Regions from separate parts of the Homo sapiens genome. Here region 2 is linked to region 1. The links come from fine-mapping of genetic effects on gene expression. A gene starts in region 1. The other region holds a variant in brackets. All regions are shown on one strand. Distances are from middle to middle. Region 1 holds the start of MAB21L1 (mab-21 like 1). Region 2 holds the start of LOC105370163 (a long non-coding RNA gene).

Evidence for each region.
Region 2: its variant is fine-mapped to the expression of MAB21L1 in tibial nerve (GTEx, PIP 0.90).

The regions. Positions count from the first base shown.
Region 1 is chr13:35,474,313-35,479,689 of GRCh38, reverse strand. It overlaps MAB21L1 (mab-21 like 1), which reads left to right and starts at 3,001. Exons shown (of 1, transcript NM_005584.5): 1 at 3,001-5,377. The coding sequence starts at 3,552. The coding sequence ends at 4,631. The region is part of intron 41 of NBEA (neurobeachin); the gene reads right to left. RefSeq lists enhancers at 119-915, 3,429-4,425.
Region 2 is chr13:35,857,815-35,863,191 of GRCh38, reverse strand. All of the region lies in intron 5 of DCLK1 (doublecortin like kinase 1), which reads left to right. LOC105370163 (a long non-coding RNA gene) reads right to left here and starts at 5,127. Exons shown (of 3, transcript XR_941855.3): 1 at 5,046-5,127. RefSeq lists enhancers at 4,095-4,634, 5,177-5,377. The variant C/T (reference allele first, on the strand shown) is at 2,662.

The DNA of each region.
Region 1 (5,377 bases):
TTAAGCCATCTCTATGTACTACATAATCATTTGACATAACTAGTTTAATAGGTCAAATGATATTTTTTTAAAATTCACTGAAAAATAGTTAAATATATTACTCCCATAAAATAAATATATCCCCCAAGCCTAGATTAAAATCGGCTGAACTGCACAAAAATGTACTGTTATTTGCAATCCCTCTCTATAGGTCATTTCCATAAAAAAATTTCGGGGATGGAAAACACGCTTCTCCGAATAGCTTAATTCTCGCTTCAACAATGAGGGGCGTCTACGATCACTGAAAGGATTCAGCTACAGAAGGCAATTCATTTCACGTGTTCAGTGTAATAGAAAATCACTGTGTTGCAGCAACAAGCAGTACTTGCACTAGAGTATTATTCATTCCAGGGCGCCCAGTTCACCCACAGTGATAATCGCGGACCGGTGAATCCTATGTTATGTAAATCACCTTCAGCTCCTTGTGTGAGGGGTGCTTAAGGAAGCAGCTTAGAAAACACAGTCCTGGCGTCCTTTAAACTAAATGACTTCACTTTCCTGAACACTCTAGATCTAATGAGTTTCCTAGTATACCTTTTCTCACCATCCATTTTTCTTTCTCAAAGTGCAAATCGTTAGTGAAAAGGCGCTGGTTGCACCAATTAGTTTGCACAAAGTGCTTCGGTGTTTAGCTTCGCTTTAACCCAATTAAGCTGCACAGTGAGCCCCGAAGATGCGCCACCTGCGCGCCTGGCTCCAGCCAGGCCCGACCGGCATCCCTCGCAGGCCCGCGTCCTTCCCGTTGGACCCACTTAAGGTCCCCCGAACAGCCCTGGGGCCTCCCCGTCCTCGGCTGTCTCACGTCCTTGACAACCAAGGGTGTTCTGCAGGTGGCCCAAGAAGGCAAGGGGCGAGGTCTTGGGGCAAGCATCTCTGGCCTGAACCCAAGGGAGAGAGCGCAGGGCGCAGGGGCCCGCGGCTGGGGCTTGGCTGCGACCACACCTGGGCCGGACGTGGGCGGTGCAGGCTGAGGGGTGCGTGGGCAGACCGTGGTCTGGAGCAGACGTGGAGAGTAAGCCGGGACACCAAGTAAGGTTTTCAAATAAGCTCACGCAGAAATAAAGCGTAGCGATCTTGAGCCCAGAGAGGAAAGTAAGAGGGCACGGGAATGCGGAGCAGCGAGAGAGAGGCGGCGAGCGGACGGCACAGGGCCACACGCGCCGGGTGAGGGCAGAAGGCGGCGTTTCCCCAGAGACCACTGCACATCCTCGCCGTCGTGGCTGCAGGTTCTCCGGCTCTGATGGGTCTCCCCTCCAACTGCCAAAAGGTAGTGGTGCATTCACCCGCGATGACGGCAAAGTGGGGAGGGGTTTTTTGGGTGTTCCCAGACCCTGCTCTTAAGGGGATGGAAGGTTCTTGGGAAATAGAGTAGCTGGGTGCCACGCACCCCAATGTATACTATTTTCAGCTAAATTGGAATCTATCACTGTTGGATAAGGAGAAATTAAATAATAGGTGGTTTTGTGATGCTGTGCCTGTGCAAAACAAAACACACAAACAAAAATCAAAAGCTTAAGTAGCAAGTGGGAGCCCTGAAGAATATCTTGTTAAAAGTGACTCTGAAAGTGTCTACAAACATGTTACCGGGAGTTATAGGATTTGACGGGAAATATTCTTAATTGGAAAGACGTGGCATCTAAATTAAAGGTAGACAATTAAAAAAATCCACCTAGTTTTAAAAACCACAACGTAACCACTAAGTAGTATTTCTTTAGTTTCCTGTACTTTGAGGACACAACTGGACCACCAACTAGAAAAAAAAATTCCTCCTCCTGTTTCCAGGTTCCAAAATTCAGAAATGAAATGATTTATTTCATTTTTGTTTTCAAAATGATGTTTAAATCCAAAAAACCCCCCAGATAACTGCAAGTTAATTTTCTTTGCAAATGTTAACCATTTTCCCTTAATTAAATCACACGAAATAGTATAAAATTAGAAGTCTACTGCCAGGTCACCACTTAAGGACACTTAAGACAGGAGATATATCCTTAATTATACATCTGTAAACAAGCCAGATACCCCAAACCTTCAATTTTTCGGGATAGTTATCTGTGAGGAAGCTTGATCTCTATGATCTCACCTGAATTTTATGTACTAAAATACAGGTCACTATGAAATAACGCTAAAGTACTCTGTCCATCCCACAGACAATTTATTTTTCAAATGTTTCTATAAGTGCATATATAGCGTTGTGTCCTGCTTGTAATGCTGGGCAAGTCCACCAAAGTGCAAAGACTGCATCTGCTGGGGCAGAGGGATGTACGAAATATTTTTTAAATATCCTAACTTAAACAGGGGTAGAACATCTCACACACTCAGCAATAATTTTCAGATTCAACAAATGGAGAAAAGAAAAAAACATAAGTAAAAAAAGAGCATACTACCTCCATAACGTTTCAAAAAATCATTTTAACATATAGGAACATCCAGAATGAGAAAATTACACAGGTACTCCTCCATCTAAAGCCAACTTCCATATGCCAGTAGTCTGCATGAAAGAACAAACTTTCAACCTGCATTTAAGAAGACCCCAAGGATTAACAGACGTTAATTATCTTACTCTAAATGCAAGTTAGTGATTTTGTTTTAGAAAACCCCGTCAAGATCACTAATTGATGGATGCCCATTAATACACCTGTATTTGCATTTCAGCGGTAAAAGACAAGCAGGTTTTCGGCACAGAAGAGAGCCGCTTTGCCAAGTCTTTTCAAAACGTCAATATGCTTCAAGTAATACCAAAGCTGAGAGATTCCTCTTGATTTCCAAACTGTCTAGGTGGCCTGAGTGGTTTTCCGCCGGCAGCAGCCTCCTACCTTTAGTTTGTGTGCCTATATCCATGAGTGGGGATTAATTAGCCGGGTTGGAGCTGAAGGAGGCTGTCGTGACGAGCCCAGTGGCGATTGGCCGCCCGCCTGCCTGGCCCTGCCTTTATAATTTCCACACGAGTGCATCTGGGCTCTTAGACAAACCAACAGCAGCTTCTTCTGACATATACACACGCACACTCACCCCGGACACACACTCAGCACACTTTTCCTCCATTTGATTAACAGTGCTGCACACACAATGATTACGGGAAAGCGCAAATAAATACGGAAAGGGGTGCTTATTTTGACTACTGGAAGAGCTTTGCTGGGTCTCAGCGCAACTTTTGTTTTTTATTCCTGAGAAGGTGATCTCTCCATGCGGTTCTCTCACACAAGGATTCTTTAAAAGAGGAAGAGAGACAAGCAGAGGGGGGAGGACAGTCTTTCACTTTAAGAACGGCTGGGCTCAAAGATAAAAGGAAGGGAAAAGCAGCAGCAGCAGCAGCAGCAGCAGCAGCAGCAGCAGCAGCAGCAGCAGCAGCAGCAGGGAAACCAACGCTGCAGCACTTCCGAAAGGCATTTTTGATCCATTTCTGAGTGTTGCGGCCCGTTTCTCCACCGAAGTTGGCTCCAGCTCTAGCAGCCGCATTGGATCCCACAGCTTACTGCGAGACTCCGGTGTACAATCCGGATCTCTGCCCCAACATGATTGCGGCCCAGGCCAAGCTGGTCTACCATCTGAATAAATACTACAACGAAAAATGCCAAGCCAGGAAAGCTGCCATTGCCAAAACTATCCGGGAAGTCTGCAAAGTAGTTTCCGACGTACTGAAGGAAGTGGAAGTGCAGGAGCCGCGGTTCATCAGCTCTCTCAACGAGATGGACAATCGCTACGAGGGCCTCGAGGTCATCTCCCCCACCGAATTTGAAGTGGTGCTTTATCTCAACCAAATGGGGGTGTTCAACTTCGTGGACGATGGCTCACTGCCCGGCTGCGCGGTGCTGAAGTTGAGCGACGGGCGCAAGAGGAGCATGTCCCTCTGGGTGGAATTCATTACCGCCTCCGGCTACCTCTCGGCGCGCAAAATCCGGTCCAGGTTTCAGACGCTGGTGGCTCAAGCGGTAGACAAATGTAGCTACCGGGATGTGGTAAAGATGGTGGCAGACACCAGCGAAGTGAAACTGAGAATCCGAGATAGGTACGTGGTGCAGATCACGCCGGCCTTTAAATGCACCGGGATCTGGCCGAGGAGTGCTGCCCACTGGCCACTTCCCCACATCCCCTGGCCGGGACCCAACCGGGTGGCGGAGGTCAAGGCGGAAGGTTTCAATCTCTTGTCCAAGGAGTGCCACTCCTTGGCCGGCAAGCAGAGCTCGGCGGAGAGCGACGCCTGGGTGCTGCAGTTCGCGGAGGCAGAGAACAGACTGCAGATGGGGGGCTGCAGAAAGAAGTGCCTCTCCATCCTCAAAACCTTAAGGGATCGTCACCTTGAACTGCCGGGCCAGCCCTTGAACAATTACCATATGAAGACTCTGGTTTCCTACGAGTGTGAAAAGCATCCCCGAGAGTCGGACTGGGACGAGTCTTGCCTGGGTGATCGGCTGAACGGGATTTTGCTGCAACTTATCTCCTGCCTGCAGTGCCGGCGGTGTCCCCACTACTTTCTACCGAACTTAGATCTGTTTCAAGGCAAACCTCACTCAGCTCTGGAAAACGCTGCCAAACAAACGTGGCGACTGGCAAGAGAGATCCTGACCAACCCGAAAAGTTTGGAAAAACTTTAGAGGATGATTTAATCAAGAGCCGAAATTATTACCCTTCTCAAAGTCCTTATTAAGTGTAAACTTCTGTTCAATTCCTAATATTCCACTCCGCAGTGCAAACAATCTCTTCCTTTAAAAAGGAATAATAATACAATATTTAAACATCATCTCACCCACCCCCACAAGGGGAGAAAAAGTAGGGGAAGCGGATGGAGAAAAACCCAAAGCCACTAGTATTAGAAGACTTCTTTCCACACGATTTCCTATCTCCCTTGAAAAGTACACCGTAACACTCCGTAAACAGCCCAGCTGTAACGCCAGACCGAGACGAACACTCTGCCTAACTATCAAAGGATTATAGCAATCCTGGTGATTTAGGTGCATCTGTCTGTGAGTAAACACGATTTGGATATGCCATCTGAAAGAAACTGTAATGTATATTTTGATTTGTAACAAATATTGTGATCTCACATTGTCTTTGAAAGTGTGGATGTTGGTGTTTTGTGATTTGGTGAACAGAACTTAAATTGCCATTCTGGATACTTCCAGACATTTTCCACTAACAAAGATATCATTTAAAGGTAGATTTCTTCCTGGTACTTTTATCTGTCTTTGAAAGTGTCTGAACTTTAAAAAGTTTACATTTTGTTTCAAATATTGCTTGTTCTATTTCTAACATTCCATAAATATACTTGAAATGTTATTTAAATATATTCAAAGAAATTTGAATTCAGCTTATATAATAACGCTTGAATATCTGAATTATA
Region 2 (5,377 bases), 380 kb before region 1:
TGCCATTGTGTGAACATCCTAGAGTGTACATACACAAACCTAGATGGTATAGCCTGCTACACACATGGCTATGTGGTATGGCCTATTGCTCCTAGGCTATAAACCTATACAGTATGTTATTGTACTGAATATCCTAGCAATTGTAAGCAATGATAAGCATTTGCACATCTCAACAGGTGTAAACATAGAAAAGGTGCAGTGAAAATACAGAATTGTAATCTTGTGGGACCACCATCGGATATATGGTCCCTTGTTGACCAAAACATTGTTTTGTGGTACTTGACTGTATGCATGTAACTATAATAGTGTAATAAGTGCTGTGATGACCTAGAGGAAACAGGTTAGATCTCATTAATAGGGTCAGAAAGCTCTTCCAAGAGAAAAGGATTTATAAATTTGGATGTAAAAAAGGGCCAGGAGGACATTCCCTCCCAGTGTGAGCTAAGGCACAAAGACATTAAACTATATGGCATAGTTAGGGAATAGTTGCTTGTTCAATAAAAATGCAGGATAGAATTCTAAGAAAGAGTTGGAAAGATGGTGGTAGCCCCGTTGGTTGTGGTCAAATTGCACAGGGTCGTGGAAGTATGTTTGTGCTGTAGATTGTAGGTATTATGAAGTGAAAGGGGATTTTTCACAGTGCCATGAAAGATCGCAGTTGAGTTTTGGAAACAGTGGCATGGCGGTGGAAAAAATTGCTACACATGAAAGGCCAAGGGCCAGGAAGGCTCTATGAGGCCATTGTAGTCATCCTGGAATGAAATTGTCAAGACAGAACCGAAAGAGCTGGGGGAGACCTCAAAGGGAAATGAAACCAGAAATTTAACTGGATGTGAGGCTAGAAGAAGAGAGAGGGATCAGAGATAGGAAGCAGGTTTGTTGGATGAGGAGAGGTAAGGAATGAGTTTCGTTTTAGACATGTGGAGTGTGAGGCGATTTGGAAATGTCTGTAAGCAATTGGAAATAAATAACTGTTCTAAGTCAGGAGATCTGCGCTAACAATATATATTTGGGAGACCCTGGTATATTGTAGTGATTTGAATAATAGAAACATAAGGTACCTCCCCGCTGCCTCAACAAGAGATTTGTAAAGATGAAAATGGAACCATGCATGGGGGAGGGAAGTCTGCATTTCTTTTTTTTTTTTTTTTTTTTTTTTGAGACGGAGTCTCGCTCTGTCACCCAGGCTGGAGTGCGGTGGGCGCAATCTCCGCTCACTGCTAGCTCCGCCTCCTGGGTTCATGCCATTCTCCCGCCTCAGCCTTCGAGTAGCTGGGACTACAGGTGCCCGCCACCACGCCTGGCTAATTTTTTGTATTTTTTTTTTTTAGTAGAGACGGGGTTTCACTATGTTATCCAGGGTGGTCTCGATCTTCTGACCTCGTGATCTACCTGCCTCGGCCTCCCAAAGTGCTGGGATTTCAGGCGTGAGCCACTGTGCCTGGCCAGAAGTCTGCATTTCTAAGAGCAATCAGCAGAAGCAGGGAAGAACAGTAAGAGTACAGGGACAGAAGTCAAAGGGGCAGAAAGTTTTGAGATGAAGGACGGGGCAGAAATGCTTGATGTTGAGATGTCAGGTAGCATGAGAACTGAATGGGGATCGTAGGATTCAGCAGTGAGGACACCACTGTGGCCTATGAAGGAATGGGCAATACCAGATGGCAGGGGGACCTGGTCTGGGAGTGTGATTTTTGGTGGTCACCGTGGGTCCTTTCCCAGGCTGGCTCCAGGCTTTACTCTAGCGGGAGCTGTCCTGCAGCGATTGGTTGGTAGGGATCAACCCCAGGACCCTCATCCACCCTGACCCTTGGTGCTTGTGGTCCCCAATTCCCCTATCATGACCATAGCCTGTTCTTGGATCCCAGCTGATAGGGATCAGATCCAAAAATTTCCTAATTTTACATCACAGGACTCTAGTTGGTCTTTTTTTATTGTTTAATTAAATTTTTTTTCTTGTACCCCAAATCATCACCAACTCTTTTCTCTCCACCCTGTCCACACTCAGTGGGTCACCATTCTCCCTATGGTGATGCCATTGCTGGCTGGTGTCCTCCCACTTTATCTTACATCTGCCCTGGGCACCAATGTCCAACCTGCTGCCATCACCTGTTGTGTGCCAAATAAAGTCTGAACTTGTTCTCAAGTGAAGGACATCTTCCTTTCCACTCATGTCCCCCATTTCTTCTCTGGACCCATGCTCCATCCTAGAAACAAATTTAAATTGTCCCCAGCTTGGGCTTTTCCACCTCATCCCTTTATTCCTCTCACTTGGCCTAGCTAGAATGTCTTCCTCTGTCTCTTCAGCTGTCTAAAGCCCACTCACCCAATTTGGCCCTGCAGACCTCTGCCACTTTCCCGGATCACCTCGCTGTCCAGGGTCTTCCCCAGCCCTGCAGTACTGCAGCAGCTGATTCACAGATGACACGTTGCACCACCTTGCTCAGTTGTAAAGTCTGAGAGCAGGGGTTCTTTGTGCATTCTACAGTGACTGTGAGTTCATGGTAACTACTGGGTAAATGTTGACCACATGAATGAATTGAGAAACACTAGGAGCTGTTGCCTAAATTTCCTGAGGTTTGGAGCCTTTGTAAGTATTTATTTAAAAAATTAATTCACAGAGCTGTGTCCCTGTCTCCCTCTCCTCTGTTCCTGGGGCCCCTC[C/T]TTCCCATTATTCTCAGTAGATGGTTTCTTTGAATTGGACCCATTGTCTCAGTTCAAGAAGAGGAAACAGACATGGAGAAAATCAGAGCTCCACCTCACCTATGAGGTGAGCACCCAAGAAGCTAAAATTAGGGAAAAAGTACGTCTTCTTCCCTCTGTTAGGTAGTTGTCTCTTTTCTCTTGGTCTCAACTGATTCCCTATGCACCCCCCACCCCCTGCATTTTTTTTCCTTCTCAATAATGTGGCAAGCAAGGAACAAAAGCTGAGAAAGAGATTTTAGGGAATGAACAGCCTACACCATGATTAGGGAGTAAAGGAGAGTCTAAGGCAGGAAGCCAGATCTCCCTGGCAGCGTGCCTGAATCGCCACCCCCAAACCCAAGGACACACACATATATGCAAACACATTCTCTCCCCAAATCTTGACAAGTGCAGCACCAGAAATAAATGAGCCTCCTTAAGTGCTAAAAGAAGACAGGGAAACAGTAAGGTGGATTTCACGTCCAAAAAGTTGCACATCTTTTAATTAGATAGTCTCGCTTGGAGATTTCTCTAACTTCAGAACCAATTTGAGACACTTACTAACATTCAGCTTTCACTTGGTGTCTGAGACTTTTAGGAACGCGACTGCAAAAAGAAGTGTTAACCTACATATGCGTGGAAAGTCATTTAAAAGGGCAATGAATTTGTAAATTAAGCCAAGTATTTCCAAATTCTAGATTTTTTAAAGTAACTTTGATGTTTAATCATAAGCATCTTGGGGACAGGGAGCAATAAGAATCTAGCATGTACTAAGTGTACACTACGTGTGCTGATAGGTTGATATCTAGGGCCCTGGACTCGTGGCTCCAGTTAGTGAAGAAGAGTTGGTTCACCTGTCTGAAATGATGAAGGAAAAGGTGGATCTGCACACTTCCTGAGGAGTATTATTCAACAATGCGCTGTGACCGGTATATGCTGTTGGATCCCTGACAGGCTTAGGTGACAGCTGAGTCGAAATAAAGGAGGGTCATGTACCGTCGGGAGGGATAGAAGTCAGCTCTGCAGTGAGATTTCTTCCACAGCTCTTTGGTGGCCAGTGATGTTAATTGGTCATCATGGTATCAGTGAATGATCCATTTTGAAGTTGAGCACTTCTCATTCAAGGGTAACAAGCACAGCAAAGGATGACATTTCCTATTTTTTAAAATAAGAAAATGTACCTATACAGATAAAAGCAAAGGAGACCAGAACTGGGTAAAGGCAGCGGTTCTAATGAGTTCTTTACTAATTCAGAGTTTAGTGGATTCAGATTGAAATAATTAATTGTTCAGCCCTGCTTGGCTGTTTAACAACAACCGTGTTAGTTTAATTGTTCCCATTCAAGATAAAGAATTGTGTAATAAGGGCCTCTGAAAAAATAATGCCATTTTAAGTTGAATTTTAATAAGTTCTATTAAATAAGTCACAAAGCCTTGTTATGGCACTTAGAAACTTCTGGCATTACAGAGTAAAAACCAAGTGTACTCAGTACATGTGTCAAACTTATTTATGAAAGAAAATTATTTATCCCAGCAGTGATTCAACAAGAAGGTGTGTAATGCTTTCTGGATGTCAAGAACCATTTTAAGAAGTTGCTAATGCTCTTCTGTATGGCCAAGAGGAAGAGTCTGAACAGAGCTCTGACCCTAAGAGTACATGCTGTTCCCAATGTTCAGACAAGTTGTGTTCCAAAAGCATTTGATTGTAAATGACTTGTCTGGCACTTGAGTTTCATTTTTCTAGAGATGGCGATGCAAATAGAAGCACTGAGCCCAGTGGTTTTATTAGGTTGGTGCAAAAGTAATTGCAGTTTTTGCTTTACTTTTAATGGCAAAAACCACAATTACCATTGCAATAACCTTGCCTAAAGGAGGCAGATCCGAGTGTCCCGGTGGTAGAGAGAGAAGCCTAGGCATCCTCAGCCCTGCAGATGCTAGGAGGGTTCTGGACATGCCCTGAGGTGCCAGGACCAGCCACTCATGGGAAAAGTGCAAAGTTTTTTGAGTAAGACCTAAATGAAATCCAGCTTTAACTCTGCCATCTTCCAGCTGTTTGTCTTTGGACAAGTTACCTGACTAAACATGTTTCTTCATCTAAAACAGAAAACATTGCACCAACTTACATGGCAGAACTGATGTTACCTAAGGTGCTTCCGTTCAAAGTGTCCAAACTCTCTGTCCTTGCAAACATGCTCCCTTTTGGCCTTAATCTTCTACAGCCAATCAATTACCAGGTTCTATAGTTTTTACCTCTTACATTTCTCTGGAACGTTTCCGTTTACCTCCACCCCATGACACTACCCTAGATCAGCCACGTCAGCATCTCTACCATAGGACCCTTAAATGTGCCCCACTCTCTCCTACCTTGACATTCTCCTTGCACCCAGTATTGTTTCCCTCTAATCCATTCTTGACAGGGCAAGAGCTGGAGAGCATTTTCAAATGCAAGCCTGATCCTGTGGCGCCTGCTTAAAATCTTTGTTTTTGTTTTTGTTTTTCTTCTCATTGCCCTTTGGATAAAAACCAAACTCCCTAACATGAATTTTAAAGCACTACTCACTATGCGGCCCCTGCCTCCATCTCATTCCTGACATTCCTCCGCCTCCAACCCCACATACTTGCTTTACTTAGTTATTTAAGTCTCTTCAGTGTACCACACTGGCCTCCTTTCTCGTATCCAGCCCTGAAACAGGAGA